4 separate regions of the Homo sapiens genome follow, and all the other regions are linked to region 1. The links come from fine-mapping of genetic effects on gene expression. A gene starts in region 1. Each other region holds a variant in brackets. All regions are shown on one strand. Distances are from middle to middle.

Region 1 (7,788 bases):
CCATACTGGATGCTCATTATATTATGAAATAGTTTCTTTTAAAATGAATCATTTGAACTTTAAAATATAGTTTTGAAAATCAGTAATGGTGTTATGACAGAATAGAAAGTCTTCTGTACATACCACTAAAAATCTATTTCTCTTGTTTGAGTCCAGATTTAATGGGTTACCATTTTAAAGGATACTAGACACAAAGATCTCTGTTTGAATCATTATATTGGGCTCCTCATTTAATTTTAAGTAATTCAAAACAATTCAAAATGTTGCTTTATTGCCCCACAAACAAGCATTTTCAAACAATGTTATAGCATATGTATACTGTCAATATCTTAAAAATTAATGTATTTATAAATATATCGGAAAAATATGGTTATGCAATAATGTACTTTTAAGAAATGGTATATCAGACCAAGATTACCTGATGATGCATCAGAAGGCTTCATAGCTTTTATATTTAGTAACAGAAAAATTGTTTCATTTTATCATTTATTTTTCGTCAAAGTTTTTATAAGCATATATGAATTAAGTATTCATTAGTTCATTGATATGACCATTGACCATTTTTAAAAGTCTAAATTGTAATATGTTAACTCCTGATGGCTTGCTGTCAATAAATTATTTTTTTCCTATGATCAGTTTACTTTGGGAAACACTGCCATAGTCAAAGGGATATCTCCAACCCAAAGTTCAAACTAAATACTTCCATTGTGTAAGATGCCACATTTTGAAGCACAGAGAAATATCTGGCAGCTTTGTAGTTTGAAGCCAATTCAAACGGGTGCTATGTTTCAGTTGCACTGATGTGTTACTATTTTTTTAGGTGAAAGAAGGCAACAGGTAGATTCCCCTGCCTGACACAATGATAACCGCACTTTTCACATTTTCGTGTTTATTCTAAACAAGATTACTGAGAGTCATATAAAGCTTTACCTTTACCCAAAGGGGGTTTATTTCAAGTGGCAAAAGCTCACTAAAGTCTAAATGCTTTATTAACTATAATTGTCAGCATATTGTGTTTAAAAAACACTACTTCCCTAGAGCAGGGGTTGGCCAGCCTTTTGTAAAAGGGCCAGATAGTAAATATTTTACACTTTGCCATCTGGTCTCTGCTGTGTCTACTCCACTCTGCTGCGGTAGCATGGAAGCAGCACAGAGAAGACAGAAATGAGTGTGCACGGCTGTGTTCCAGTAAAACCTGATTTGTGAACACTGAAATATATATTTTATATAATTCTCACGTGCCACCAAATAGTACTTTCTTTTGAATTTTTTTCAACAATTTAAAAATGTAAGGCCAGGTGAGGTGGCTCACGCCTATAATCCTAGCACTTTGGGAGGCCAAGGCGGGTGGATCACCTGAGGTCAGGAGTTCAAGACTAGCCTGGCCAACATGGTGAAACCCTGTCTCTACCAAAAATACAAAAATTAGCCAGGTGTGGTGGCAGATGCCTGTACTCCCAACTACTCTGGAGGCTGAGGCAGGAGAATCGCTTGAACCTGGGAGGCGGAGGTTGCAATGAGCCAAGATCGCACATTGCACTCCAGCCTGGGCGACAAGAGTGAAACTCCGTCTCGAAAAATAATAATAAGAAAATTAAATTAAAAATAAAAATGTAAAAACTATTCTTAGGTCACAGGCCCTACAAGAATAAGCTGTGTGCCAAATTTGGCCCATGGGCCAAATGTACGTATGCCCAGCCCTGTTCTATCAAGCAACAGTGAAACTGTCCCTCCTTAGAGACTACCATCCCTAAAACGACTGACTGTACTCGCCATGTGCTGGAAAATGGGAAGACTTAAAAAAAGGGAAATCACTGAGGCAGAGTCAAGGGGCGACAGACCTTACTCGGGATGCCCTCCTGCCCACCCATGCACAGAGGGCCACATCATCCTGGCATCCACAGCCAGCACAGCGACCAAGGCCGTCCATACCCCACCCAACGGGCCTGCAGAGGTGGCCATCTGCGTCTGCGCAGCACTGACTCGCTGGGCATGCCTCCTCTTCCATCAAGTCACCACTCCCCACTGTGGCTCTGAGAGGAACAGAAAGCCACTTTCCCATCCCCCATCCCCTGCGCTGGCAGTCCAGCGACTAAAAGGGCCCAGCTTCTCTGACTGCTAATGGCCCGGCAAGTCTCCTAACAGTGTGCTCTGCCTACACAAAGGGCGCCGGGGCGTGCGTGCCCGGCTCTCGCAGATCACAGCCAGGGCCTGCCCGAGGACTGGCATTTCAATTCACCAAACGTCTTAATTCGGAGGGGGACGGAACACTTTCTACAGAACATTTTAAAGCACATGGGAAGTTTGGGCCCTTTCGCAGTAGAGAGGAAGGAACGAAGGGGAGGAATTTGTAGGCTGTTGTTTAAGGATTGTTAAAGTGCGCACATCATCAGCTGACAAAGATCGGCCGACTGCCAATGCCTCCCCAAACTCACGAAAGCCAAAATTCAGAGTACAGCGTAAAAGGGGGTGCGAGTGGCCTTTACTTTTATAAAGGACATTTGTACACAATGTCGCACAATAAACAACGTCAAGTCTGGGCACACATTACCCACATCTCAGTCAAAAGAAAAGGGTGGCCTGGCCCAGCCCCGAAGGGTTTTCTCTGAGAAATAGGTTGGGGTGTAAAGGTCCCACGCGTGCACCCACAGTCCGTGGCACCTTCCTCTGGTGCACCGTGGCAGGACGCTTTGTTCTTTCCCTAGGGGTCTCCAGCAAACTGCAAGGGCTACAATATGATATTTAGAGTTAAAAACCAATCCCAAGGCCTTAGAACCATGCCCGGGAGTTGGGAGCCTTTTTCTTGGAGGCAGCTGCTCCGGGCCTTGGAAGTTTCTTCCTATTCTGACGCAGGCTGGGAATTCTAGAGGCCTTGTAGGAAGGTCAAACGGACGAGAAGACTGAGGTCAGAGGCTTTCGGAGCATTGCCCGGGCTCTCTAAGCTCGCTCACTTGTCTGCGGGGGTGCGAGTCGACGGTTCAAAGTCTCCCTCCTTTCCCTCCACGCGCCCCTCACGCCAGACTCGCCACGCTCAGCAAAGCGTCCCAGCAAGTTCCTTGAGGCGGCAGCCCGAGCTCCACGTGCTAATCAACCCCGCCCCACGGCTCTTCGAAACTCTCCAGGCTCAGAGCGCGTCCGCAGGGCGCGCGTAGCGCAGCGTGTAGTTGGCGCCCGCGTTGTTGTCCCAGTACTCGCCCTGCGCGCAGCGGTAGCAGACAGCGAAGTGGACCGCGACGCCGCGCTCGTCGGCGTCCTCTTCGTCCTCAGGCTGCAGGCCCGGGGGCAGGCACAGCGAGAAGTGGAAGCACTCGGCGCCTGGCTCTTTCTTGGCATCCCCGGACCCTGGCTCGGAGGCCCCAGACGGTGCCTCTGGCTGCTGTGGCTCCAGCGGCTCGGGCTGCAGCTCAGCCGGCACGTCCAGGAAGGAGCGCCACTCGGTAAAGGTGTAGCGCACGGTCACGGCCCTGGGCCCAGGGCAGCTGAGCACCCGGCCGGAGCCCTTCACCTCAGCGCCCGAGGCCGTCGAGCACTGCACGCGCTCCAGGCACACGCGCTGCCGCTGCAGACGCTCGGCCGCGGCGCTCGGCCCCGGGAGCTGGAAGAGCGGCCGGAGCCGGGAAGGCGGCGCTGAAAGGGGCGCGGCCACTGCCGCCGCGGCCAGCAGCCCCCCGAGCTGCTCCAGGTCCTCGGCACGCATAGGGAAGCTTCGGAGGCGCGAGAGCACGGCGGGCGGCACCTGCGGCTCCTCCGCCTCGCTGAAGTGCTTCACGCTGGCCAGGCTTAGCCCCAGCGTGTCCGCGAACTGCACCCGCTTCTTGCACTTGGCGCAGCAGCCGCCCGGGCCGAGCTGTGCGTCCTCCGCCCCCTCGCCGCCCAGTGCCACCGCCTGTTGCTGCTGCTGCTGCAGGAACTTGGCCGCCTGCAAGATGGGGTCGGCGGGCAAGGAAAAGGAGCGCGCGCGGCAGCGGCGGCGGCATTCCAGCAGCTCCTCCTGCTCCTGGGGGGCGGCCTCTTCCTTCGGGGACAGGGGCCTATCCCCTAGCTGAGCGTCAGGACTCGGGGTCTCCGAAGCGCCACCGCCGTCGCCGCCACCCTGCACACAGGGGACCACCGGGGCGGGCAGCTCCTCGGCCGGCGGGGCCTCTCGGAAGGGCGCTGGTCCCGGCGCCTCCAAACTTAGCCGCGCCCCTATGGGCTCCATGACGCCGTTCGCCCCTGGACTTGCTCGGGCCGAACCGGGCCCCTCTGGAGACTTAACTAACTCCTCGGGCCGTGGAAGGAGCGCAGGGCTGCAGTTCAGGCTCGCCCTCCCCGAGGCGAGTCGCCCCAGGCTCGACAAGACAACGTAGTTCCACTTTGGAGCCTCCGGCTTTTAGCTGCGGCTGCCCAGGGCGAAGTGGGAGGAGGATGCGGGCCTGGGGCCGGCTCCGGGGCCACGCCGCCTCCCGGTTGAACCTGCCCGCGACGGGGGAGGGCCGGGGGCGGGGAGGCGCGGCCGCTGGGACACCTGGAAGCCGTGTTCCCGAGTGCTCCGGTGGAATGCGGGGGGCGACTTTCTGTCGTTCGCGGGCTCCCTGCAGCCCTCACCCGCACCCCCGGCGGGGCTCGCGTCTGTTCCGCTTCTTGAGTGCCTCGAAGTGGGGGTGCAGAGCTCGCGCTCAACCTTCAGAGACCCCCACGTGCACAAAGTCTTCCTGCCCATGAACTTGGCCTGACGGCTCTGCCCCCAGAGGGTCACTGAGCGCTCTCCTCTTGGCTGCCTCACGGGCTGGGGAGTCCCCGGTGCAGCGCGCAACTGGGGAAATCTTGCCTACGCAGAGGCTGGAAGGAGGCCCATTCCGCGCCGCCGGAGAGCGGGGAGCGCATCCCTTCCCTTCTGCTCCTGCTTTCCCCAAACTTCAGGGCGCCCCGGGTTCCAATCCCACTCGGAAGCCTGACTCGGTCAGGCGCGCTCCGCTCTGCTCTTCCGAAAGCCGGGAGGCAGGAGCCGCCGCCCCCATCTGCCCAGTGGCGGCGCGGGGTGGGCTGCGGCCAGACTGGGGCGGGGACCGTGTGGGGACGCGCCGGGGAGCGGCCATGGCCCGCAGCCGAGAGCGGCCGGAGGCCATTCGCGCCAGGCCCGGGAGCACGTCCCGCCCCTCCCCCTGTCCCGCCCGACGCGCCCGCGAGTCCGCGCCCCGGGATCCCGCAGGGAGGGCGGAGAGGGGGCCCCGTGGGGCCGGCGCCCACGCGGCACGCACCACCTCCCACCGCAACCGGACGCCAGCGCCCCAAGCACCCTCCCCGCCCACCGGGAGTGGGGGCGTGGCCCGCGCCGGACTGCGCTGTCACCGCCCTGCTGCTCCGGCCTTGCCAGGGGCCAAGGCCCGAACCTGAGGCCGGGGAGGGGTGGGGAAGCGCGTCGTGGTACCTAGGGATTGGGGGAACGTCTAAAAGTGGTGTTTTTCTTGTTTTGGTTTTAAGGCCACCCTGAGGGCCATCTAAGTCAGTGATTCTACTTCAGCATGCACGGACATCACTCGGGGGCCCGTTGTCACATCACAGGGCCCCACTCCCAGAGTTTCCTTCTTTCTAACTTTTTCGAGATAGGGGTCTTGCTATGCTGCCCAGGTTGGTCTCAAATTCCCGGCCTCAAGCAGTCCTCCCGCCTCAGCCTCTAAGGTAGCTGGGATTACAGGCGCCCCCCACTGCTCCCAGCTCCCTAGCGTTTGTGACTCAGTGGGCTTGGGCTGGGGCCTGGAAGTATTTCTAACAAGGGGATGCTGATGCTGGGCTCTGGGGACCGTATTTAAACCTATGTGGATGTGTATTCAGTTACTTATATAGAAAGTTGGGGATTCTAGAAACAGAACCACTAATTAAGAAACGTAATTAATTGGGGCTTCATAACTAAAACATGTCATGGTTTGGCAGAACTGAAAGGGGCCAGGGTTTTAGCCATGTTGGCAGAGGGCAGGCAAAAGAGATGGTGGGTGAGGAGCGTGTTAAGAGCTTACATTGATTGACTGAGCACCTACAGGATGTCCTGTCCATGAAATAGGAATCACATCATTCCTGCCTACATATAGGACACAACACTGCAGAAAGATTTCTCATCGCCAAGGCCCCACAGGGTGGCTTTCATGGGATTTGAAGCCAGGCAGCTTAGAGGAAACATTTCCCCCATCACTACTAAGCCTGGGCTGGGAGTGATGTCCTGTAAAGGGGGCCCTGCCGGTCCCCTTGCTGGACTCTTGCTGGTCATTTTATGCCCAGTGTGGAATTCCATGACTGTGTCTTGACTTGGGCATGGCATCTCCAAGAGGCCCCAGGCGCACACGGCCTGTCTTCCTGCAGCAACTCTGATTTCGGGAAGGACATTGCTTTTACATTTAAATACACATTGCTACATTATGGAGTTAAATACAAAATTCACAAGCTATTTTAAAGATAAAATAAGACTTCAAAGAGATTTTGAGGTGGTGGCGACCCTTTGGGCTACAACCCTCACGGGGGCACATGCTCACTCCAGGACAGAGAAGGAGGTGAGGGAGGTGCTGGGGCATAGAATTTAAGGAGGCATCACTCTCAGGGTCATGCAGGTGCACTGGTCCCAGCCCCGGCCCACCCTCCTCTGTGCGGTGGAAATGCTAGAGGTCCCACCCCCGGGGAGCTCTCAGTGCGTGGGAGGGGCCAACACTATACAAACTCAGCCCCTGTGGCCAATGCTGAGAAGGTGGTATCTGACCTGGTCAGGAGGCCTGTGAGGAAGGTGAGGTGGAAGGAACAGCTCGGACTGCAAGGAAGAACGTGCTGGGCCACGCAGAGGCTCTGTTGGAGGGAGTGTCAGGGGGCTGGACTGGAAGAAGGCCAGGGTGGCCTGAGGGCAGAGAGCACAGAGGAACTGGCGGAGCTGAGGATGGGAGGGGACAGCCACTCAACCTTGAGCAATGAGAGGCCGTCAAAAGGTTTTGAGTCATGAATGTGACTAACCAGATTTAAATTTTGAAAAGATCATTCTGGATACAGGACAAAGAGCAAATTACTGGGGACAGAAACAATGTGAGTGAGCCCCATAGGAGGCTGTTGCCATTGTTGTGGTGAAGGGTGATCATACTTAAGAGATGATGGTTGTGGGGTGGACAAATCTGAGCGCTATTTAGGAGTGAAAATCAATGTAGCACACTTATGGCCCCAAGTGGGGGTAGGTGCAGGGAGGCAGGGGGAGGGAGGTGCCTTAGGATTTGGACTTGAGCTGTTGGGTAGACAGTAGCAGTCACTGGGGCAGGGACCCCCAGAAGAGGAATAGAGGGAGGGCAAGATCATGAATTCTGTTTTGACCAGGTTGAGCTTCTCTGGTTCTTACCAACACCAAGTGGTGTCTAACACCAGTTCTCCAACAGGGTGTCCAATAATTCAATTCTGACATTATCTACCTGGAGCTAGTGTCTGTCTCCACAGCTTAGAGGCTCAGTCCCACAAGACGGCCCCCACTTCAGAAGCCACTTGCAAACGGGGTGCCCAGGCTGCCTGCATTTCTGCCCCTCCAGCTACAAATTAGTGTTCCCACAACCCATCCCCAGCTTCCATATGACTCACGGAACTCAGGAAAACACTTTGCTTGAGTTCACCAGTTTATTATAAAGAAGAAAACTCAGGAACTGGCAAAGGGAAGAGATAGAAGACAGAGTGTGCGATGGGCATGGGACTTCCAGGGCCCCTCTGGGTGCACCAGCCTCCAGGGTCTCCACATGCTCCCCACCCAGAAGCCCCACCAGCCTTGCTCAGTCTGCAGCCCCTGCCCCTTTC
Region 2 (7,788 bases), 22 kb before region 1:
CCATAACTCCTGCCTGCTACTAAAGCCTTGAGAAGATGACGGTAAACTCTGTCAAGTACTCGTGAATGTCCGATTGTGGACACTTCTAGGACAGGTTCCTGGTGAATCCCCTGAGATCAATTAAATACAGAACAAGCTCCCAGGTAGCTGAACCATCCCAGCTGTTATACAAAACTGTTTGTATTAGCCTAGTTTTAATTATCCAAAAAGTAATGGTTCCCTTTTTTTTAAGGATCATTGGTATTCTAGCCTTTCTTTTCTCAATATCATTTGATAGTGGGTTCATCTATCTGTTGAGGTTAATATATGAAAACAAAACCATGTACTATTCAGGGTGGAGGACAATGCCAATCCTCCCCTTCTCTGTAGTAGGGTATAGATGGCTTCAGCTCACCCAGCAGCTATTTCAGGTTGTCCAGAAGGGAAGGCCAGAAAGTCCCTGTGCTGCATTCATCGTGACTGTACCGTAGCCCCTGAGAAAACCAGTGCGGCTCCTCACAGCCCTCAAGATGATTTCCGACCTTGCCACCTAAAGTGTGGCCCGTGGACCAGCAGCATCAGCATTACCTGCAGGTTGCGAGAAACGCAGCACCCCAGACCCTCCCCATCCACTTGCGTCCAAAGTCTTCTCTATATTAATGAGAGGAAAGGACGACTGAAGACACAGTAGCAAAGCTCATCACTGTGACTTGTTAGGAGCACTCATTCTCTACACCCCCTTCCCATAACTCCTACCTACCTCTTTTGGTTTTTAATTAGGACATTCACTTGCATTTAAAAATACCTGCAAGATCCCCCCATCCCCCATATCTCCACTGTCTACTTCTCGTTCTTCTTAGATGACGTGCTGCTCTCGCCTCTTCCTTCGCTTTCTCTTGCACCGCAACACTTAGTTATTATCCATGCCACGGACCTTCAAGATACCTCTGTGCAAGGGCAGACTGAAGACCGAGCAAATGGCATGGAAAACAGGACACCTCAGATGGACGGCGCGGCGGTCCTTGGTGACAGAGCACTGCTCTTTAACACATGCTGTAGTAATGACATGATCGCCTTCTGTCCGGGGCCTTCACTTCGAAATAGAGCACTAAGATCGGGGAGGAAAACCATGAGGATGTTGACCCCTGGCTGCTCTGTTTGCTTAAACAGCAGTTACTCACCCCGAATTACCCATAGATAGTGACCAACTGGTCTGAAATCCAGATAGAGTTGCTAATGATCAGCCCTTCCTTCACCCATTCCACTTGTTCTTAAAAATGTATCACTCAGGAAATGCTTTACAGAAAAACTGTGGCAAGACCCTTTGTTGCAGAGGAAAGACCTGCTCTAGCCCCAGAGGATGGCTCCAGCATCCACCTGGGACAGTGGAAACATTGGGCATTAAGACACTTAATAAAAAGGACACTTTAAAAAGAAGGGGGCAGGAAAGATAGAAGGCAGGAGGTGCAGGCACTCAGACAACTGCCCTCGACCCCACCCGGGATGGGCCACGGACAGGTGTCTGCATTGCCCTGAATGCAGCGCTTTTCCTACCCCAGCATAGACGGCGCCCATTTCTGCACTGTTCTAAAACCCCTTCCCTATGCGAGAATCAGTTCTAAGGGAAGGAAGCCCTCTTAGGAGAGGAGGTACTGGGCACACATCTGACAGCTCTGCCACCAGCAGGCAGGCGTCACCCAGCTCAGCACAGCCCCGAGTCCCAGGCTGCAGCCTCCTGTGCTGTTTCAGAGGGGAGGAATGGGTGTGTGGATCTCTGTAACTTCTCACAGTGAGGGAAACGGGGGTTGGATGGTGCTCTAGTGGCCGGCTTTGCCCCGCAGTGCAGTTGCCGGAAGGGAGCAGCCCTGGGATGGCCGACGTTTGTATTAGAAATGTTAGGAAATGTTCCTTCTGGCCTTTCCCAGGGGCTAGAGGGCCACGGTTCCTGACCTGTGTCCTTTCTTTGCCTTCAGGTCCACATTGGCCAACTGTATTCAACTGACAAGCTGATCATTGAGAATCGAGACATGCCCAGGACCTAGCAAGCCGGGGACCAGCCACCAGTGGCGGCCAGGGACCACCTTCAGCATCCACTCTCTGTTTGAGATGGGGGCTCCCAAAACCAGCTTACAATAGCCTTTTGCGCTGCCTGTCCTGTGGGAGCTGATAAACCAAGTCACATTTGCATTCTGTTGCAGGCTTAGTGAAAAAGGACTGCTGTCTTTCCTTGGTTCAAGTGTTAGAATGGAGAGCTGGAGTTCGTTCAGAATAGTGCTGTGTGTTACCACGTCTCCCCTGCACCCCATTCCTACCTTGTAGCTCATGACCATTGTGTATAGCATTTCTACACTTTGTTTCTTGGTCCTTGGCAATAAAAAGAATGATCTCCCTGAGCCTTTGACCCCAGATAAACCCCTCCCAATTAATGCATTTTCATTTCCTACTGATACAAGGCCTGGAGAGGGCTGTTGGGGGCCCTCAGGGAGGGTTCAACTCTGAGACGAGAACTGCCTTGGTGAAGGCAAGTTCAAGCACCACTTGAGACTGGGGGCAGCATGGAGTAGGGCAGGGCTACGGGGATACACGGTGCACCCTGCAACTTATACCTGAGCCCAGTACAACAAAGGTGACGGGTGTGTAGGTACACACCCAGAGATGGAGCACTGCAGATCAGCAACCTCAGCCCCACCTGGGAATTTGCTGGAAATGCAGGCTCAAGCCCCTCCCCACACCTGGTGAATGAGAGAGCCCCAGCCTGACCCAAGCCCAGGGCGACTCCCATACCCTGAAGCCTGGGGCATGCTGGGCAGCACCGGTGCCCAAATCTGGCTGGTGGACAGAAGCACCTGGAGAGTTGGAGAGCTTTTTAAAAAGACATCTCTCAGCACTTCCCTCTCTGCAGATTCTGACTCAGTAAGTGAGGGGTGAGGCACAGTCATTTTTCTCTATTCTGAAGCTCTCCCACTGTTTTCAATGTTTAACCAACTGGGGACCCCTGCTCTTTAAGTATATTACAGGTAATAAAGATATTGTTTGTATGCTTTTATTCTTGGAAACAGATTCATTCCAAACATAGAAAGAACATATTAAATAACTTGCTTGTCATCTGGGGAGTTTACGAGGGACCAGACCTGGCAGAGCGGTTTCTTGTTTCCCTTTGCATACAGTGCTCAGTGGATTTGGTATCTGTGGGTTAAGGTTTGGAACAGGCTC[C/A]TATAAATAGCACCGGTCCTGGAATAGCTGCAGCACTGTCACCCCCTCATTTTAACTCCGACGGTCATGGGAGTGAGTACGCACTGTCTGAGCCCGTGTTCTTCTCACCCTCATATGAGAACTCATGTCTTCCAGTCGCTTTTAGAGAGCATAGATTTGCTGCAATGATGCGTTCAAATAGATGTAACGTGTAGCCATTCTATTTGGCAGTACAACTTTTGATTTCAGGATAAAGTCTTTTTTTTTGAGATGGAGTCTCGCTCTGTCACCCAGGCTGGAGTGCAGCGGTGCGATCTTGGCTCACTGCAACCTCCACCTCCTGGGTTCAAGCCATTCTCCTGCCTCAGCCTCCCGAGTAGCTGGGATTACAGGGGCCTGCCACCACGCCCAGCTAATTTTTTGTATTTTTAATAGAGACGGGGTTTCACTATGTTGGCCAGGCTGGTCTTGAACTCCTCGGCCCCCCAAAGTGCTGGTATTACAGGCATGAACCACCACCCCCTGCCAATTTCAGGATAAAGTCCTGAGCATCTGTGAAAATAATGAAGCTCTTAGCAAGTCCCAGATCTCTTACCCTCTAACCAGTTCCTGCCTGGGAGCTGCAGTGTTAGAGCATATGCAAAGCCCTAATTGGGGGAGAGCTGTTCGGTGGACAGTGAACGGAGGTGATGTGGCAAGTATAATCACTCCCTTCAGCTGACTGTCACGGGGCAGAGCCGCCCAGCCCAGCCCTGTGTGTGGCTCTGGCTCAGGTTTTCCACCTTGCATCAGTGCAGTGGAGTTCGTGGTCACTCAGCAGTGAATGCATCCAACCACGCTACTAACGCACGGCACTGCTGATTTATACTTAATTTAAGCAACTGCTACTTGGAACCGAAGTCCAGATTTGAACCTCCGTGCTGAAGGCATCAAATTGCCGGCAAGATAACAGCTCCAGAGGAGACTTCTCCCACTCCCCCAGGTTTTACGCAATGAGGCAGTCCACCCAAACTTAACGTGGGCTGCAGGCTGTAACAGCAGGTTGCTTTTGTGTTCATTAAACTGCATGAATGGGTTTGAACATGCCCAAAGCCTTGCTAATGCAGACTTAATTTTGTAAAATTAACTATGCCTTTGGAATCTGCAGAAAGATACAAATCCGAATTCTGTGGCAGGAAACGCCACAAACAGGCCTTGGTCCTCCACCTTTCAGGTGTATATCTGGCAGGCAGAGCCTGGCACTGGGTACTCCCCAACTGAGATGACCCAATATTGATGCTAGAGCTTCGAATAAAGTGGCATTCCCATGGGGGTGACCCCTGGTGTTTCTCTAGGGAAGTATTCCACCTCCTTGACTATGCACCAACTGAGGGGAATGTGGGCAACTCCAACATCCATCATGGCCAGCCTCACAGAACTCTCTAGAACTTGTGCCTGCTTTGAAGATAGGATCCGGGCTGGGGTCTGGAGATCACTTTGCAGCACTAATATTGAGCAAATGAGAACTACTATCATTAGTTAACTTCCCAGGCAGAACTCATTGGCCGAGCAAGGCTATATCCTAGACTTTCAGAGACAGCTCTGGGCTGGGCTGGCTGTCATGACATAATAGCTGGGAGATCTTGCACGGCCAAGTACAGGGCTGTGTTGTTCTGATGGCTGTTGGAATCTGGATTTTGGAACTGAAAGAATTGGCTAGATTGCTTTAGGTATACTCCGTCCTGCTGCTAACTAAGTAGCAGTGACCTTTAACTCCCTTCATCCACAGCCTCTCCCGTTAATCTCAAGCCCCACCATACAACCCACCATCATCCAGGAGCAAAAGGGACAGGCAGAGGGTGAAGCCTACAAAGATGACAAACATCAGAGCTCACCTAGTCCAACCCTCAAATCTTCAGGTGTTAAAACAAAGAGCCTGAACATCTGCAGATCACGTACAGAGTCAGGGCCTTTCCCCTAAACCCCTTTCACTCATTCATTTATTCACTCAGTATTGACTAAGGCCACCTAGTGCCAGGTGCCAGGTGCCAGGGAGCAACCAGTGAACAAGACAGACGTACCTTCATAAAGCCTGTGTCTAGCAGGGAAATCTGAGAAGAAAATGACAAGTCTTATGAATGTTACAAAGAGGGAAATATGAGTGCTGCCAGAGCCGATGGGACGGGCCAGGGAAGGGCTCCCCAGGGGATATTTACACGTGCAAATTAATGATGAGGATTGGCTGTGTGAAGGTGGGGAGAGGAGCTCTCTAGGCAGGAGGAACAGCACATGCAAAGCCCTTAATTGGGGGAGAGGGTAGTTCCATGCAAAGAACTAAAGGGAGTCTGGGATGGTGGCAGCCAAGGAAGAGGGCTCTTTCCACATCGTGGACGGCCTTGGAGCCTCAGCCTAAGGATGGTGAGCAACTCGGGAGTTTTTAGGCAAGATGAGGTTTTTGTTTTGTTTTGTTTTGTTTTTTTGAGACAGAGTCTCGCTCTGTTGCCCAGGCTGGAGTGCAGTGGCATAATCTCAGCTCACTACAACCTCTGCCTCCCGGGTTCAAGCAATTCTCCTGCCTCAGCCTCCTGAGTAGCTGGGACTACAGGCGCACGCCACCATGCCCAGCTAAGTTTTATATTTTTTAGTAGACACAGGATTTCGCCATGTTGGCCAGGCTGCTCTTGAACTCCTGACCCCAGATGATCCGCCTGCCTCGGCCTCCCAAAGTGCTGGGATTACAGGCGTGAGCCACCGCCCCCGACCGAAGTTTGTATTTTTTAAAAGGTCACATTGTCTGCTTTTGAGGGGATACACTGGGAGAGATGCAGGGAGACCAGCTTTTCGGAGGAGTGGGGGATTGGGTGTGGCATTCCAGGCAAGCGATGGTGACTTCACCAAGAGGCAACAGCTGAACAGAAGCAGAGTCAGCATCACCCTGAGAACTGGCTGGGGTGGGCCGCCATTGAAGGAGGACAGGAAACCTGGAGCAGAGCTGCCCCAGCTGAGCACAGCCCGAGCTCCCCAGCCCACCTGCCGATGCGCGAGAAAGTCCACAGAGTCCCCTAGCCTGGTCTAGCTTAGGTCAGTCATATTCAGCCACCCCTCAGACATGTGCTAAATAATTAACTGTTACATTAGTCACTGAGTTTGGAGGTAGATTATTATGAAGTAACAGCAAACTAATACAGAGAGCATCTCTGTATTAATGTATTAATGTATTACTTTCTCAGGGCCACATAGCAAACCAAAGAGTAGGCAGACAAACGGCCAAAACTGCAGGTCTCCTGTATGGGGACATTTCCACAAATATCTTCAGAATACTGGTCACTCCCTTTAGAGAACAAGTCCTGGAGAAACAGTCGAAACAGTCATCACGTGTCCTACAGATGGAAGGGCTGGCCAACCAGAAAGAAAAGAAAAAGTCGAGTCAGCAGAACTTGGTGATTGATTGGATGAGGAGACCAGGCCTGAGGGCTGCAGGGAGTCTAGGAGGAGTCTCAGGAGCAGGGCCTGAGGAACTAAGAAGGGGCTCTGGCTGAGACCAGACAGGAGCAGCCACTGTCTGGAATTTTGTCCCCACTGCTGACTTCGAACAACCTCAACTTCAAACAGAAAGCCCAGACTCGATGAATTTATCTTTTCTTCAAAGTAGAGAAAGGGTAGCTCTTTTCTTCCCAGGAAATTGTTTATCCATTTAATAATTTTTAAAAATCACTGGAGTTGGGTGTGGTGGCTCATACCTGGTAATCTCAGCACTTTGAGAGGCCGAAGTGGGCAGATCACTTGAGCTCAGGAGTTCGAGACCAGCCTGGGCAACATAGTGAAACCCTGTCTATACAGAAAATACAAAAATTAGCTGGGTGTGGTGGCATGCAACTGTTGTCCTAGCTACTCTGGAGCCTGAGGTGGGAGGATCACTTGAGCCTGGAAGGCGGAGGTTGCAGTGAGCCATGATCGCACCACTGCACTCCAGCCTGGATGACAGAGTGATACCCTGTCTAAAAAAAAAAAAATAACTGGGATAAAACAACTCGAAAGACCCTTATAAAGATTTTACCCGTAACTCTGTAGAGCAAATAACTTCCTGCTTTAGGCAAAGCTCTTTGTGTGTAAGTTCGATTGGAAGAGGAGGGCTGGTGGGGGGAGATTCTCTACTTTGGTCATGAGATTAACATTAAAAGTTTGAGGAAGGTTGCTCTATATATTGGCTGCCTGTTTCTAAGACTGAAAATAAAAGCACAGTAAAATATCAACAAGTATACAGAAAATATACATTTGTAGAAAATTAGCTTTTTTTTTTTTTTTTGCTAAGTACTTCATATAAACTAGTATTTGCTTTCTAGATTAAAGAATATCTCCTCCAGGTGTGGTGGCTCACACCTGTAATCCCAGCACTTTGGGAAGCCGAGGTGGATGGACCACGATGTCAGGAGTTCAAGACCAGCCTGGCCAACATGGTGAAACCCCATCTCTCCTAAAGATACAAAAAAAATTAGCCAGGCGTGGCAGTGGGCGCCTGTAATCCCAGCTACTCAGGAGACTGAGGCAGAGAATTGCTTGAAGCCAGAGGCAGAGGTTGCAATGAGCCGGGATCACGCCACTGAACTCCAGCCTGGGTGACAGAGTGAGACTCTTGTC
Region 3 (7,788 bases), 21 kb after region 1:
CAGCGGACGATGGTTGATGTCGCATTTCCAAACTGACTTCTACTTTGACCTCATACAGTGTGACGGTGAATAGACAACAGAATTGTAAGGCAAACACCTGTTTGTAAACAGAGAGAAGCCCAACCACCCTGGTCAAAATGAATGAGCCCAAGCCTAAAATCAATCAGAGTGTGGGCAAGAAGGTTGCCTTTTTAAAGGAAAAATAAAACTTAGAGCCTGTTTTCCATAAGCATGTGCTTTCCATAGCACATTTAGCACTGTGATAAATGTAGGGTGTTCTTGTGAGGAGATTTTAAGTATGTGAAAGTTAATTTATTCCTGCAATCTTCTCATATCCAAGCCTTAACAAATGAGTTCTTGCAAAGTTGAAATCATCACACTATATACGTAATCTTTTTTTCACTATTATGATGGCTAAAATTCCTCAACACAGATTGTTTGCTACAAACTGGCATGGGATTTGTTTTAATACTGCTTACTTTGTGTGTATCGTAACGCTTAAAAACGATTAAGATTTGTAACTTTTCCTTTTCCCAAATGTAAAGTTTTCCACCAAAACTACAAAAAAATCCATTAGTTTCCCTGCATGGTAGTCAGTCTTTATAAAACAGTCGCCAAGCCTTGCCTCCTGGTGTTCACACCCTTCCCATAGCCCATGTAACCAACAGGAGGCTGCAGAAGTGGTAATGTACAACTTCCAAGGCTGAGTCACAAAAGACACTGAGCACTCCCCCAGCTCTCCCTTGCTTTGAGGAAGCTGGCCGCCATGTTGTGAGAACACTCAAGCAGCCCTTCAGAGCCAACCAGCATCAATTTGCCAGCCATGTGAGTTAACCTCCTTGGAAGCGGATTTAAGACTCTGATGGCTGTAGCCCTGGCTGACATACTCACTGCAACCTCATGAGAAACTGAGCCAGAACCACCCAAATAAAACATTCCCCAATTCCCTAACCCTCAAAAGCTGCACAATTGTAAATGTTAACTGTTGCTAACGACATACTAAGTTTGAGGTCATCTGTTACACAGCAATAGATAACTAATGTTTTCTGTGTACATAAATATCTATAAATGCTTAGGAAGGATCTAGAAAGATGCACATGGGGAATGTGGTGAACTTGGAAGAGGTGGAGTAGTAGCAAAGAAATTAATACTTTTGTCTGTATCACTTTAATTTTTCCGCCAAGTGCATATATGTATGTTTCAATGATATAATTAAAAATAAATTTAGGGGTTCACTGCAGTAGCAACCCCCGGTAATCCTTGGAGCGGGCCTGAGAGACAAAGACATGTGGATCCCAGTGGCCGGATTTCCTCCTCGGCTGAGGCTCTCCGCCTTGGGGGGCGCTGGTCGCTTTTGCATTTTAGGGTCTGGAGCGGCGATGCGAAAGCACTTGCCGGCGAGGAACCGCCGTGGCCTGTCTGACTCCTCTCCGCAGCTGTGGCCGGATCCGGATTTCAGGAACTCACCAAGGAGGGTGTTAAACTCCATCTTAGACTTTAAGCGTTACGTAACCAATCGGAGATTGGCTGAGACCCTGGCGCAAATCGTATGGAGAAAACAAAATAGACCTCCACACCTATTGCTGCAGTGCAGTCCAGGTCCTGGAATCCTGACTCAGGCATTACTTGAAATTGGTGCCAAAGTGGTTGCCCTTGAAAGTGACAAAACTTTTATTCCACATTTGGAGTCCTTAGGAAAAAATCTGGATGGAAAACTACAAGTGATTCACTGTGACTTCTTTAAAATAGATCCTAGAAGTGGTGGAGTAATAAAACCACCCGCTATGGCTTCTCAAGGGCTCTTTCAGAATTTGGGAATAGAAGCAGTTCCTTGGACAGCAGGCAGCCCTTTAAAAGTAACTAGAATGTTCTCAAGTAGAGGTGAAAAAAGGGCCACTTTGGAAACCTGCATATGACGTATTCCTGTACTTCTAGATATAAATTTGGACGAATAGAACTAAATATGTTTATTGGTAAAAAAGAATTCCAGAAACTAACGGCAGATCCCCGAAATCCAGACTTGTATCATGTATGAAGTGTTATCTGGCAAGTAGCTTGTGAGATTAAGGTTCTGCACATGGAGGCTTGGTCGTCATTTGATGTATACACCCAAAATGGGCGGCTGGAAAACCCAAAGTGTAGGGAATTATTGGAGCTATTACAACAAAATCTGTATCTTACTCGAATGACTCCTCATGGAAATTTATTTACCGAGAACTTAACACCTATTAACTGTAATATATTTTTTCACATGTGAAAGCACTGTTTTGGGAGGTGCAGTGCCAATCTAATAGACCACTTAAGTTCACTGACTCCACTTGGTGCAATGGATATATTGATGCAAATAGGAAAAAAGGAAGAAGAGAAAATAACTAACATGTACCCTCAAGACTTCAAAAAACTTTTTGAAACTATAGTGTTCCAAAGATTGTGCTTATAAATGGCTATATGATGAAACCCTGGTAAATATGTAGCAACTAGACTGTCGTTTTTGGTGGAGCAGTTTATTTATTTGGAAACCATGACATGAAAACCAAATTTGAAAGCTCACATCCTTTCAGCAGAAGATAACTGTTCTTGTTTTGCACATGACACGTAGATCATTTCTCCTGAAGTTGATATCATTGGCATATTGGATGAAACAGTGGCTGCTATTTTATTCACAATTGAATAAAGTGAAAACTTCAATTAATTGTGGATTTGATCAGATTGAATTCCTTTTGTTTCAGATTCCTATTTAAATATTTCACTTTCACTGTTGCTGATTTTTGCATCTTCTTGAGGAGCAAGAGTCTGTACATTATTAAGCTTAGAAAGTAAACAAAACTGATTTACTGATTTGTTTTGCATTTCAGTTTGTTGAAATGTATTGTCAAGTACTACAGAATGAAATTGTTTAAATTTTAATATGATTTAAACTTTTTTAGAAATTAAAATATTTTAAATAAAAATAAATATATAAATGTAAAGCCAAAGCTTGGAAGCAACGAAGATGTCCTTCAGTAATGAATGCATAAGTAAACTGTAGTATATCTAGACAATGGAATATTATTCAGCAGTAAAAAGAAACACACTGTCAAGCCACAAAAAGACATGGAGAACACTGAAGTGCATATGACTTAAGTGAAAGAAGCCTGGAAAGGCTATATACTGTATGATTCTAACTATGACATTCTGGATAAGGCAAAACTTGGAGTTAGGAAGAGCAGTGGTTGCCATGGTTTAGGGTAGAGAGGGATGAGTAGGCAGAGCACAGAGGTTTTAGGGCAGTGAAACTATTCTGTATGACACTGTAATGGTGGATACGTAACATTATTAAAACCCGTAGGATGTGCAACACCGAGACTAAGCCTTGATGTAAACTATGGACTTTAGTTTAAAATAACGTATCCAGCTAGAAGAGCACATTTTAATGTTCCCAACACAAAGAAACGATGAATGTTTTAGGTGATGGACATGCTTAATTCCCCTGATTTGATCACTACACTTTGTGTACATGAATTGAAATACCACACTGTACCCCATAAATATGTACAATTGTGTTTCAACTAAAAATAATAATAAGGCTAGCCACAATGGTTCGCCCTTGTAGTCCTAGCACTTTGGGAGGCTGAGGCGAGAGGATTGCCTTGAGGCCAAGAGTTCAAGACCAATCTGACCAATATAGTGAGACCCTCGTCTCTATAAAAAAAAATTTTAAGCAAAAAGTTAATTGAATTTAAAAAATATATGATACAAAAGAATGTATCAATGTCTCATCAGCTGTAACAAATACATTACATTCATATTCATTGTTAACAGAGCAAACAGTGAGCTTGGGTTGCTGAGGGGTGTATGGGAAAGCTGTACCTTCCACTCAATTTCTCTGTAAACCTAAAACTGCTCTAAAAATAAAACATATTAATTATTTTTAAAATAAAATAAAATTTAAAAGATGACTAAAGACAAATAGACAAACATAGATATCACGTCTCGTTTGCCGTTCAGGGCTTGCTGGGATAGAACTTTTCCGGGCTAGGTGGGAAGGCTGATTCATTTGTCACCCTTATTTCTGCTCCCACCTTTTTTTTTCAGCCAGCAGATGGGATAAAATTCCAAAAACCTTGACTTTGGAATAAAGAACATTCTAAAACCTGGGTCCCTTTCAAGCGTGTATTGTTAGAAACAGGCTCCCAAAAGCCAAACACAAGTTGAGAATGGGCTCCCAGGAAGTGCTAAGAGGCTCTGGGGACCCAACAGATGTGGAAGAACTCAGCCGTGAACCTCACTGCATGGCTTTAGGCCACAAGACAGGCAGCTCCCACCGGAGCCACTGCCCCTGGCCTGGCAAGTCAACCCCTTCGCCCAGAGGCCTAGTGTGCCCAGACAGTTCCTGGGACCAGCGCATGCCACTTTCTGGGGCAGGTTCCCGACATGCTGGGGTGAGCAGAGAGATGAACAGGACTGTCCAGGGTCTGGGGAACCGGGGCAGCCTGAAGAGGGGCTGGGTGGGACCAGGCTGGGCAGGGATGAAGGCTGAGTCTGCTCCCGGGAGATGGCTCCCCAACTGTGGTCCACGGTGGCACCCACATGTGATCTGTTGGGGGAGGAAGCCACACACACCAGGAGC[A/T]GTGCCTCTCACTCACTGAACAAACATCACTCCAGGCCAAGCTCAGTGCTGGGGAGACATAGGTGAACAAGCCTGGGTTCCAGGGATCGGGAGCTTCTTCCAGTGGGGTTCAGATTGTGTCAGAATAAACAACCACACAAGGGTGTAAGTAGCGTCCCATGGCGACAACTGATGTGAAAAAACCAAAGCAAGGGAAGGAGACCAGGAGGATAGGCCTGGGGGAGGGGCCAGGTAGGATGGGGGTCGGGAAAGGCTTGTGGGGCTGGAAATGGGCGGTTGGCTAACGTGCCTTCCAGGGACTCCAATCTCCCCAGAAGAGCACCAGGTCCTCCCTGAGGGCTACAGTGCATCCGAAAAGCCCAGGGTCAGCCAGGTCTCGGTGCACAGAATGCTTCATGAGGACCAAGGCTTTAGTCGGTGGATGAAGTGGCCGTCCCGTCTGTGCCAGTTTCAGTGCCTTCCTAAAAAAGAAAAATCAAAGCTTGCTGCCCAGTTTGCCCCATTCAAAAAAAATCCTATTCAGGAAGACTTTGTATTGAGGGAAAATGTCCACAGGTGACTCCTCTTGTGCCTGTTGAGAAGGAGGTGCAGAGATGGAAATGACTCATGGGAAGCTGCTTTGTGAACGAGCAGACCCAGTGGTTCGATAATGGATGCCCACACCACCCTCCACCACGGTCCACTTGACCACAGGATAGTCAGCGGCACATGAGTCCTTCCAAGGGCCCTTGCCAGTGTGACCTCCTCCTTCCCTTCCCCTCCTGGCTTGCGGCAGGCTTTGATTTGCTCCAAATCCAATGGTTGCATTCATCAGAGATCACAGATTCTAAAGTGTGCAGCCTCTCCCATGAGGTTCTAATTCCAGAAGTCACCTGACAGAGCCAGAAATGCATGGACCACTTGCACAGAGAAGTAAATTATGTCCTGAGAGTCGCCTGGATCCTGGGGAGGTGGAAAACTGTCCTCAAACAGGATGTGTTATGTGTTTTCAGTAGAAGAGCCAGCTGGCAGCTCACCTGCAGCTCTGAGCAAGGGAGGCTTCTAATCCTTCCTGCCATGCTGCCTCGGTGATACCATCCCTTTGGCCACATTTGTCTTAGGCCTTTATTAAAAGGGAAGGGTGAATTAAATAAAACAATGATGTGGAAGAAAAATGCAGATAGGTCATGAAATTCAGGGGAAATGATATTATTAAGAAATGAAAATAAGGCCAGACATGGTGGCTCTCAGCACTTTGGGAGGCTGAGGTGGGAGGATCACTTGATGCCAGGAGTTCGAGACCAGCCTGGGCAACACAGTGAACCCTGTCTCTAAACATATATATATATGTTAATATATGTTATAAATATATTAATTAATATGTATTATAAATATTATCAACATATAAATATATAATTAATATATATTAATTAGCTGGGGTGTTGGTGTGCACATGTAGTCCTAGCTACTTGGGAGACTGAAATGGTAGGATCACTTGAGCCTAGGAGTTTGAGGCTGCAGTGAGCTATTATCGCACCACTGCACACTAGCCTGGGCAACAGAGCGAGACCCTATCTCAAAAAAAAAAAAAAAAAAAAAGAAGAAGGAAGGGGAAGAAGAAATAAAGAAATGAAAATAATAGTATTTTAAGCCAGGAGAATAGAAGGAAGAAAATGGCAAAGTATCAGTATTAAACACCCCGCTATTGTGGAGGTGGTACGAAAGTACCAGAGTTAATTATAAAAAAGTTGAGCAATGCACACATATAAAAGACCTCCATTGCTAGAGAATTACAAAGGTGATAACATTCTCAATTATGGCATAAATATTCCATCTCTGGGTCTTGCGTCTTATTCATGGTGTTCATTTCTTCCAGTGCTTTGTAATTCATTGTGTGTGAACTGATTTTTGTGAGTTTTCTATGGGACTCCCGTGAGCTCTGGGTGGCTGCGGAATAGAACAGTACAAGACTTCCTGTTGCCAGAGTCTCTGGGGATTTCAATGGTCATGGATCGGTTTTGTGTTCGTTTTTCAGGTTTTAGTTCTTGCACCATGCAGGTAGTTAGATTCAGATCCCAACCCCATAGCCCCTAGCCACCTTCAGCGTTTGCTATTGAACACACATTTGATCTGCGTAAGCCTGGTAAGTGAAAAGCTTGGGAGGCAACTAATATTTCTGCATTTCTCTCATTATTTATGACATAGATAGGATTAACCTTTTTTATTTTACAATTGTTCACTATCTTGTATAAAATAAGGGCAAAATGCAATAAGATATTCAAACAATTGTGAAATCATCGTTTTGCTATTGTGAAACAAAGGTGGCAGTTCAGCCAAAACTGAACTATTGACTGACAGGCAGGCCTCTGCACGTGGTGTGACAGTTTGTGCATGAAAATAGACAACTTCTAGTAAATCAGGTTTGGGTTAAAAGAGACAAAAATCTAAAGCTGATAAATAAATTAAAATCAGAAAAATAGAAGAAATGAAGGATTAAAAATTAAACACTAAGAAGTTAAAAGTAAAATAATCCCTCACCAAAAAATACAATTAATTAACTGTCTTTTTAATTAATTAAGTGACCTGCATGGCCAGCCTCCTGTGTGAAGGACCTGAGAGGACTATAAACTGTTTCTGAGCCTCTCCTGTGTCCCCTCTTGAGGCTGCACCTGACTGGCTGTCCCCTAAATTTAAGAACACAGAACAGTATAGGATAAAGGTGGCATTCAAAATTGGTCGAGAAAATATGAATTATTTAATAAATACCACTGGTATAACTAGTTGGCTATGGGGTGGGCAGAATCTCTCTGAATTCTAATTCTCAAAATAAATTCCAGATAAATTGAAAAATATAGCTGGGCACGGTGGCTCACGCCTGTAATCCTAGCACTTTGGGAGGCTGACGCAGGTGGATCATCTGAGGTCAGGAGTTCGAGACCAGCCTGGGCAACACAGTGAAACTCCGTGTCTACTAAAAATACAAAAATTACCCAGGTGTGATGGCGCATGCCTGTAATCCCAGCTACTCAGGAGGCTGAGACATAAGAATAACTTGAACCCGAGAGGCAGACGTGTGAGCTGATTTTTGTGAGTTTTCTATGGGAGTGCTATGGAGATGGTACCACTGCATTCCAACCTGGGTGACACAGTGAGACTTTGTCTCAAAAAAAAAAAAATACAAAAATCGAAACTCAAGGGGA
Region 4 (7,788 bases), 780 kb before region 1:
ACAGCAGCTACACCATTTTACATGCCCACTGACAGTGCAGAAGGGTTCCAGTTCCTCCACATCCTCGCAAGTGATTGTTCTTTGTATTCCCACACAGCCAGCATCTACTCATCTTCAGTGAGCTCCAGCTCATTGTTAGTAAGCAGCTTCACTTTTTGGAGCTGCATCTTAGCTTACATCTTTATAGTGCAGCTCTCTCCTGGAGGAGCCTAAGGCAAACCTTTCTTAGCTGCTCTTCCTGATTTGTATAATTTTCCATAATCCAACTGTTAAGGATTCATCCTAGGTTAAATGTAGTTGATTCTCTTAAAACAGGAATTTAAATCAAATTGAGTATTTTTTCACATATCCTACGTATAAGATAATTATAAACAGAAATGTGCTATGTCCTCAAGAGTCATTCGTGTTGTCACATATTGTAGAATTTCCTTCTTTAGATGTAAGTTTCCTTAGATGTATGCTAAGATGCAGGGTCAGAACAGACACATGTAAGAAAGCAGGCATCCTGATGGAATGATATGGTTGAAAGAGCTCATTCAAGAGCTCGCTGAGCACTTCCTACATGTTCAACATAGAGGTCATCTAAGAAAAACAGGACGTGGCTCCTGCCTGCAGTGGCACCTATCACAGTTAGGCAAACAACACCAGCTATTGCAGTGGAACAAAAGCAGATCGTATATGCTAAAGAGTGAAACTGAATACTCCCATAAACAGATGGGAAAAAATGTGGGCTGGATGACAGAAGTGCTGGGTGATTCACACATAACTGGTTGAACAAACATACCCAACAGGGCCTATTAATGAACAAATGTCAACAGATAGTGAGGTCTCTATTGGCTCTACCCTCACTGCAGACTTGTCCGACATTTTGATAAATGATTTGGATAAGAAGAGTAACAGTATAATTGATCGAGTCTGTGATATCATGAAACTGAAAGTGATAGTAAACACACTGAATAATAGAAGCAGAATCCTAGAAGCCTACAGTATTGGTCTGTTCTGCCAGCATGGTGAGTGGGGTGGTGTGTCCCAACAAAGTGAGGAGACACACTTCTGACCAGCACTGCACTGACCACACCTAAGGCGGCCCTTCTAGGGCAACTCACTCAAACGGAGAATTTTCAATTAGATCAGATTCTGGAAAGAGTGACCAGGAGAACATGCCTTGAGACCAGTGTAACTGAGGGGAGAATAGGCAATCTAGCATAGGGAAGATAGCCTATGGTCAGTTGTCATTTCCATATGTTTAAAAAAATAGACATGAAATAGGACTTCAGCTTATTTGATGTCATTTCACAAGGCTGAACCTCACAGATTTTGACTTTATAGCATAAGCCTTTCAAAGAGAAAGAAAAAGAGTATTGATTTAGTACCTATCCAGTGCCAGAAACTGTACTTGGCATTTTACATCCTCCTTCTAGCAATCAAATAAGATATAAATTATTATCCCATTTTACATACTATTCCATTTATCTATTGCTGAATAACAAACTTCTACAAAACTTAGTACCTTAAGACAACAATTGATTATTCTTATACCTCATCGTTTTGTGGGCTAGGAATGTGGACAGGATGGAGGAAGAATAACTTCTGTCTCTCCCATGGTGTCTGGAGCCTCCTCTGGAATGTCTTGGCTATTTAAGTAACCTTCTGTATTTCTCTGCCCAGCCTCTTCACCTGTGGGCTTCCTCACAACATGGCAGACTTAGGGTAGAAGTTCTTACTTAGTAACTCAGGGCTCCAGAAGAATGAGGCAGATGCTGTCACTCCTCTTAGGTCTAAGCCTGGAACCAGAGCAGCATCATTTCCTCTGTGCTCCAGTGGCTGGGGGTAGTCACAGGGCCAGCCCACATTCAAGATGAGGGAATAAAAACAACATCAAAATGGTTCGTGACCATTTTAAATTCATCACACAGATGAGGAAGTACAGGAAGGTGGGAAGTGGCAGAGCCAGGACTCGAGCTACATCTGACCAACTGTCATTTCCTTCCCCACTCTCATTACCCTCAGTAACACATCCGTGTGTGTGGGCTCAAGGGTCTCCTCTAAGATAACTTTAAACTGTGTGTTTTCATCCCCAGCCTTGCTGCTAAGCTCCAGGACTATCTCCAGTGGAAACTGTACATGTCCATTTGAATTTCCTCGAGCCAACTCAGACTTAGCAGGATGAGACAAGAGTTCAGAATTCATCACAGGTCCTATCTCCATCCCGATCTAGGCAAACCAGCAGCTCGCCAGTCACACTGGCTCAGAACCTCATGTTGACTTCTGTCCCTGCCCTCTCACTTTTTTCCTGTGTCCAGTCAGTCACCATTGCCAAGGCCTGTAAATTCGTAGGCACAACAGTCTTCAAGGCTGCTCAAAGATCAGTTCTGCCTACATCCCCTCCAGCCACCTACCATGCTCACCATCCCCAGCCACACTGCCTGCTGCTCCTCCAAAGCCTCTCCACGGACACCATCTCCCTAGAAAGACCATTCTATCAAACATTACTGATATTGTTATGTCTGTTTATTTCTTATTTATTGTCTGTTTCTCCTACTAGAGCAATGCTATTCAATAGAAATATAATTTGAGCCACATCTGTAATTTTACATTTTATGGTAGCCACATTTAAAAGGGCATAAAGAAACAGGTAAAATTAATTTTAAGAATTTATTTCACTTAATCGTGTATATTGGTCCATTTTCACGCTGCTATAAAGTTACTACCTGGACTGGGTAACTTATAAAGAAAAAAGATTTAATTGACTCACAGTTCTGCATGGCTGGGGAAGCCTCAGGAAACTTACAATCATGGCAGAAGGTGAAGGGGAAGCAAGGCACATCTTACATGGTGGCAGGCAATAGAGTGCAGGGGAAAATGCCACTTTTAAACCATCAGATCTCATGAGAACTCCCTCATTATCACGAGAATAGCATGGGGGAAACTGCCCCCATGATCCAATCACCTTCCATCGGTTCCCTCCCTCAACATGTGGGGATTACAATTCTAGATGAGATTTAGGTGGGGACAGAGAGCCAAACCATATCACCATGATATCCCGAATACTATTATTTCAACATGTAATCAATATGAAAAATCATTAATGAGATACTTCACATTTTTTGGTCTAAATTTTGAAATTGATGTGTATTTTGCCCTTTGTTTACCTCTCATTCAGACTGGCCACATTTCAAGGGCTTGGTAGCTACACGTGCTAGTGGCCGCCATCTCGGACAGCACAGCTCTAAAACAAAAGCTCTTTGAGGATGTGGACTTTGTTCTCTTTGTTCACCTCTCTCTTCAAGGTGCCCTGAACTTAAAAAATATTTTCTTACTGCATGCGTGCAGGAATGCAATGAATGAAATGCATCCCTTGCTTTTGATTCTCCCCCACCCCTTCCTCCTGACCTCACAGTGGCAGAAGCCTTCTACCTGTCAAGCATCTACAGGTGTGGCAAGGAACTGCTCCTTTCCAGCTTGAGATGCTCTTCCCACACCACCAGTTTCTGTCTTGAGCCTCTTTCCACCGGTGGGAGGACTCAGAGTAAGGCTTGTCTGGCGGCCCCAACCAATGGACACCTGCCTCTTCCCATTTCTTCCCACAGCATGAGCATGTGTGACTTCAGTCCTCTCTCCTCACCCCTGTCCTAACCTCCCACTTATTATTTCTACCCCTCACCCTTCATCCTGAGGTCCAGAGCAGAGTCCCTGAGAGCTTGAAGGTCTTTGGTGTACTGAGGTCGAAGAACGCTGACCTCTGACCTCTCACTTTTTGAATGAGAAAACCTAGGGTGAGAGGCCTGCCAGGTTTGAATCTGTGCCCAGCTTGATTCTGAGGCTCTTTGAGGGACCCCACCCTGCGTGTCTGTCCACTGTTTCTGGGACAACCTGGTTCCAGCTTGCAGCCTGGCTCTTAGCCTTGGCTGACAGTTCCAGTCTTTGCATCCCCAGATGTCACATCTTGGGGTGGCACAGAGCACTCTGCTGGCTTGGAGCTTCTCCCCAACTAACCTTTTTGACAGCTTCATTGAGATATAATTTACATACCATACAATTCACCCCACTAAAGTATATAATTCAATGGATTTTATTATATTTACAGTTATGTGCAACCATCTTCACAGTCAATTTTCATATCACCTCAAAAAGAAACCTTTTAGACCCATTCACCCATTGAGGGACATTTGAGTTTCTCCTGCCTTATGGCTATTATGAATAATGTCGCTGTGAATATTCACGTAAACCCCTCCACTGATTCTTCCTACCTCTTGCTGCCAGGTGACTTTTCAGCAAGCATTGGAAAGCAGGTCAGTCCACTGTTCCTAACATCTGCCATATTGGTCCTGGCACTGGAGGCTCTTCATCACAGGGGCCTTCTCTACTCCCCACACCTGGCTGCAGAGAGGCAGTGAAAGGTCGTGGTCAAGGTCAGGGTCTGAAAGCCAGGGCCTCACCTCCCAGCTGGTAATGAGCTCAGCCAGACAGAAGGACAGCCCA[G/T]GTTCAGGGTTTGGGAAGAATGGCAGTTACTCACTTTGGTTTACTATCAACATGGCAAGGACATGGGGGATGTGCTCCCCAGGCCTGCCCTCTGCTCCTCACAGAGACAGACCCCAGGCTTAGAGAGGCAGCCAACCAGGCTGAGTGAGCCATTGCCCGGTGAGAGGAGCAGGGCCCACCACCCCTCTCATACCATTTTGAGGCTGGGAAAGGGGCCGCAGCAGCTCTCAGGAGTTCACCGCCTTAGCACTGCAGTCACACCCTCTGTATTGTCTCTTACTACCTCAGCACGTACCACCACTGTGATTTTAGACAACTTATTTAACCTCTCTGTGCCTCAGTCTGCTCCCCTGCAAATGGGGATAATAATAGTACCAACCTCAGAGCATTCTTGAAAATGCATGCCTGAGTGCTTAAACCCCGCCGGAACAAGGAGAGCTCCATGTGTGTTAGCGATTCTTTCTTCCCAAATCAAACACTTTGTTGTAGTGAGATTTATCTCCTCCCCATGGTCCTCTCTTCACACCAGAGGTCTGGATTCTCTGCTTATCTAAGTTCTGGCTATTTGTATTAGTTTCCTATTGTCACTGCAACAAATTGTCACGAACGCCGTGTCTTAAAACAACATATGTTTTTTCTCTTAGGATTCTACAGGTCAGAAGTCCAAATGAGTCTCGCTGAGCTAAACTCCGAGTGCCAGCAGGGCCATGTTCCTTTCTAGGGGCTCTGGGGAAGAATCTGGTTTTTGGCTTTTTCCAGCTTCTCCCCTCCCACTCTCGCATTCTCCCTTCAACACGCTGGTTCACTTCTGTACAAAGTTGAGTGCAGTTCACCACAGACCCCTCTCCCTGTTAAATCAGCAATTGTTTTTACTGATTTAAATCTGTCCTGATCATTTTAATCAGTGTCCAGCTTTGTTTATCTTTGGCAATCCCCTTCGTCCATCCTCCAAGCCAGCAATGGCCTGCAGAATCCTTCTCCCATCATGTCAGCCTGCCTCTCTGAGTCTGTTGCCTTGTCTTCTCTGACCCTCCTGCCTGCCCCTTCTTCCACTTGTGAGGACCCTTGTGATGTCATTGGGCCCCCAGATAATCCAGGATTATCTTCCTATCTCAAAGTCAGCTGATTAGCAACCTTAAACCCACCTGCAACCTAATTCCTCCTTGCCAAATAACGTAAGATCTTCAGAGGTCTCGGAATCAGATGTGGACGTATTTGGGGGGCATTATATAATGCATGTCACACTATTCTCTTTTTCCCCAACATCACTGAGGTATAGTTGACAATTAAAAATTTTATATATTTAAGGCGTACAACTCAATGATTCAATATATGTATACATTGTGAACTGTCCACCACAATCAAGCAAATTAATGCGTTTATCACCTCACATCGTTATCATTTTTTGATGTGGTGAGAACACTTAAGAGCTGCCTTCTCAGCAAATTTCAAGTCTACAATACTGTTACTGTAGTCACATTGCTGTATGTAGTTGTCCAGACCTTATTTACCTTACATAACAGACCTCGCTCATACCCTTTGACCAACATCTTCCCATATCCCTCCCCTTCAGCCTCCAGTAACCACTATTCTACTCTCTGTTTCCATGATTTGACATTTTTGGATTTCAGGTTTATGTTGTCACAAATAACAGAATGTCCTTCTTTTTAAAGGCTGAATAATATTTCATTGCATGTGTATATACAACATTTTATCCATTCATCTGTCAATGGACATTTAGGTTATTTCTGTATCTTGGCTGTATCTTGGTGAATAATGCTGCAAAGAACAGATATATCTTTAAGATACTGATTTCATTTTCTTTGGATATAGACCTCACAATGGGATTGCTGATCACATGGTGGTTCTATTTTTCCTTTTTTGAGAAACTTCCCTATTGTTTTCCATGATGCCTGTACCAATTTACATTCCCATCGATCGTGGACAAGGGTTTTATTTGCTCCACATCCTCACCAACATTTGTTATCTCTTGTCATTCTGATAATAGCCATCCTAACAGGCGTGAAGTGACATCTCATAGTGGTTTTGATTATCACTTCCCTGATGGTTAGTGATGTTGAACATCTTTTCATATACCCGTTAGTCATTTGTATGTCTTCTTGGGAACAATGTCTACTCAACTCCTCTCTCTGCTTTTTAATCAAGTTTCGTTTTTTTCTGTTGAGTTGTATGAGTTGCTCATATATTGTGGATATTAACCCCTTATCAGATGTATGGCTTGCAAATATTTTCTCCCATTCTGTAGGTTGCTTTTTGTTGTTGTTGATTGTTTCTTTTGCTGTGCAGAAACTTTTAGTTTGATGTAGTCTCACTTGTTCCTTTGTGCTTTTGGTTTCATATCCAAACCATCATTGCCAAGACCAATGTCATGAAGCTTTTCACCTATGTTTTCTTCTGGGAGTTTTAGAGTTTCAGGGCTATGTTTCAGTCTCTTTGAGTTGATCTTTGTGTATGGTATAAAATAAAGATACAGTTTCGTTTTCTTGCATGGGGGTATCCAGTTTTCTCAACACCACTTATTGAAGAGACTGTCTTTTCCCCGTTGTGTATTCTTGGCACTTTTGTTAAAGACTTGTTGACCACACATGTGTGACTTATTTCTGGGCTTTCTGTTCTTTTCCGTTGTCCTATGTGTCTGTTTTTATGATAGTACATGTTATTTTGGTTAGTATAACTTTGTAATATATTTTGAAATCAGAGCCGGTAATGCCTCCAGCTTTGTTCTTTTTGCTCAAGATTGCTTTGGCTAGTCTGGGTCTTTTGTAGTTCCATATGATTTTTTTTTCTTTTTTTTGAGACAGAGTCTTGCTCTGTCACCCAGGCTGGAGTGCAGTGGTGCAATCTCAGCTCACAGTAACCTCTGCCTCCCAGGTTCAAGTGATTCTCCTGCCCCAGCCTCCCGAGTAGTTGCGATTACGGGCACCTGCCACCATGCCCAGCTAACTTTTGTCTTTTTAGTAGAGGTGGGGTTTTACCATGTTTGCCAGGCTGGTCTTGAACTCCTGACCTCAAGTGATCCACCCACCTTGGCCTCCCAAAATGCTGGAATTATAGGTGAGAGACACTGTACCTGGCCGCATATGAATTTTAGGGTAGATTTTTCTATTTCTGTAAAGGACATCATTGGGATTTTGATAGGGATTGCTTTGCATCTGTAAATCAGTTTGGGTAGTTTAGACATTTTAGCAATATTAATTATTTCAGTCAATATGGATATCTTTCCACTTATCAGTATCTTCTTTAACTTCCTTCATCATTGTTATAATTTTCAGTGTACAAGTGTTT

Direction of the effects. Alleles are on the strand shown, and positions count from the first base shown. SD is a standard deviation of normalised expression in the study named. Not every link is listed here.
For the expression in whole blood of the gene that starts at base 4,346 in region 1, A is the low allele of the variant in region 3 and T is the other (moderate effect, 0.69 SD a copy in TwinsUK).

The links. PIP is the estimated chance that this variant, and not a neighbour inherited with it, causes the effect.
Region 2: its variant is the best candidate, but not a certain one, in a credible set for the expression of PPP1R3G in left ventricle (GTEx, PIP 0.50).
Region 3: its variant is the best candidate, but not a certain one, in a credible set for the expression of PPP1R3G in whole blood (TwinsUK, PIP 0.60).
Region 4: its variant is the best candidate, but not a certain one, in a credible set for the expression of PPP1R3G in atrial appendage (GTEx, PIP 0.79).

Annotation. Positions count from the first base shown.
Region 1 is chr6:5,081,899-5,089,686 of GRCh38, reverse strand. It overlaps PPP1R3G (protein phosphatase 1 regulatory subunit 3G), which reads right to left and starts at 4,346. Exons shown (of 1, transcript NM_001145115.3): 1 at 200-4,346. The coding sequence starts at 4,201. The coding sequence ends at 3,125. All of the region lies in intron 3 of LYRM4-AS1 (LYRM4 antisense RNA 1), which reads right to left. It also overlaps a transcript of LYRM4 not described here. RefSeq lists silencers at 3,595-3,824, 3,855-3,904, 4,045-4,144, 4,395-4,574, 4,985-5,264 and 1 more and an enhancer at 3,375-4,064.
Region 2 is chr6:5,103,656-5,111,443 of GRCh38, reverse strand. It overlaps LYRM4 (LYR motif containing 4), which reads left to right. Exons shown (of 3, transcript NM_020408.6): 3 at 1,953-3,025. The coding sequence ends at 2,021. The region is part of intron 3 of LYRM4-AS1 (LYRM4 antisense RNA 1); the gene reads right to left. Among named protein-coding and RNA genes, the nearest start is that of PPP1R3G, 22 kb to the right of the region's middle. The variant C/A (reference allele first, on the strand shown) is at 3,193.
Region 3 is chr6:5,060,481-5,068,268 of GRCh38, reverse strand. All of the region lies in intron 2 of LYRM4-AS1 (LYRM4 antisense RNA 1), which reads right to left. It also overlaps a transcript of LYRM4 not described here and the pseudogene TFB2MP1. Among named protein-coding and RNA genes, the nearest start is that of PPP1R3G, 21 kb to the left of the region's middle. RefSeq lists an enhancer at 4,427-4,928. The variant A/T (reference allele first, on the strand shown) is at 4,610.
Region 4 is chr6:5,859,834-5,867,621 of GRCh38, reverse strand. LOC124901251 (a long non-coding RNA gene) reads right to left here and starts at 4,655. Exons shown (of 2, transcript XR_007059425.1): 1 at 4,251-4,655. The variant G/T (reference allele first, on the strand shown) is at 4,483.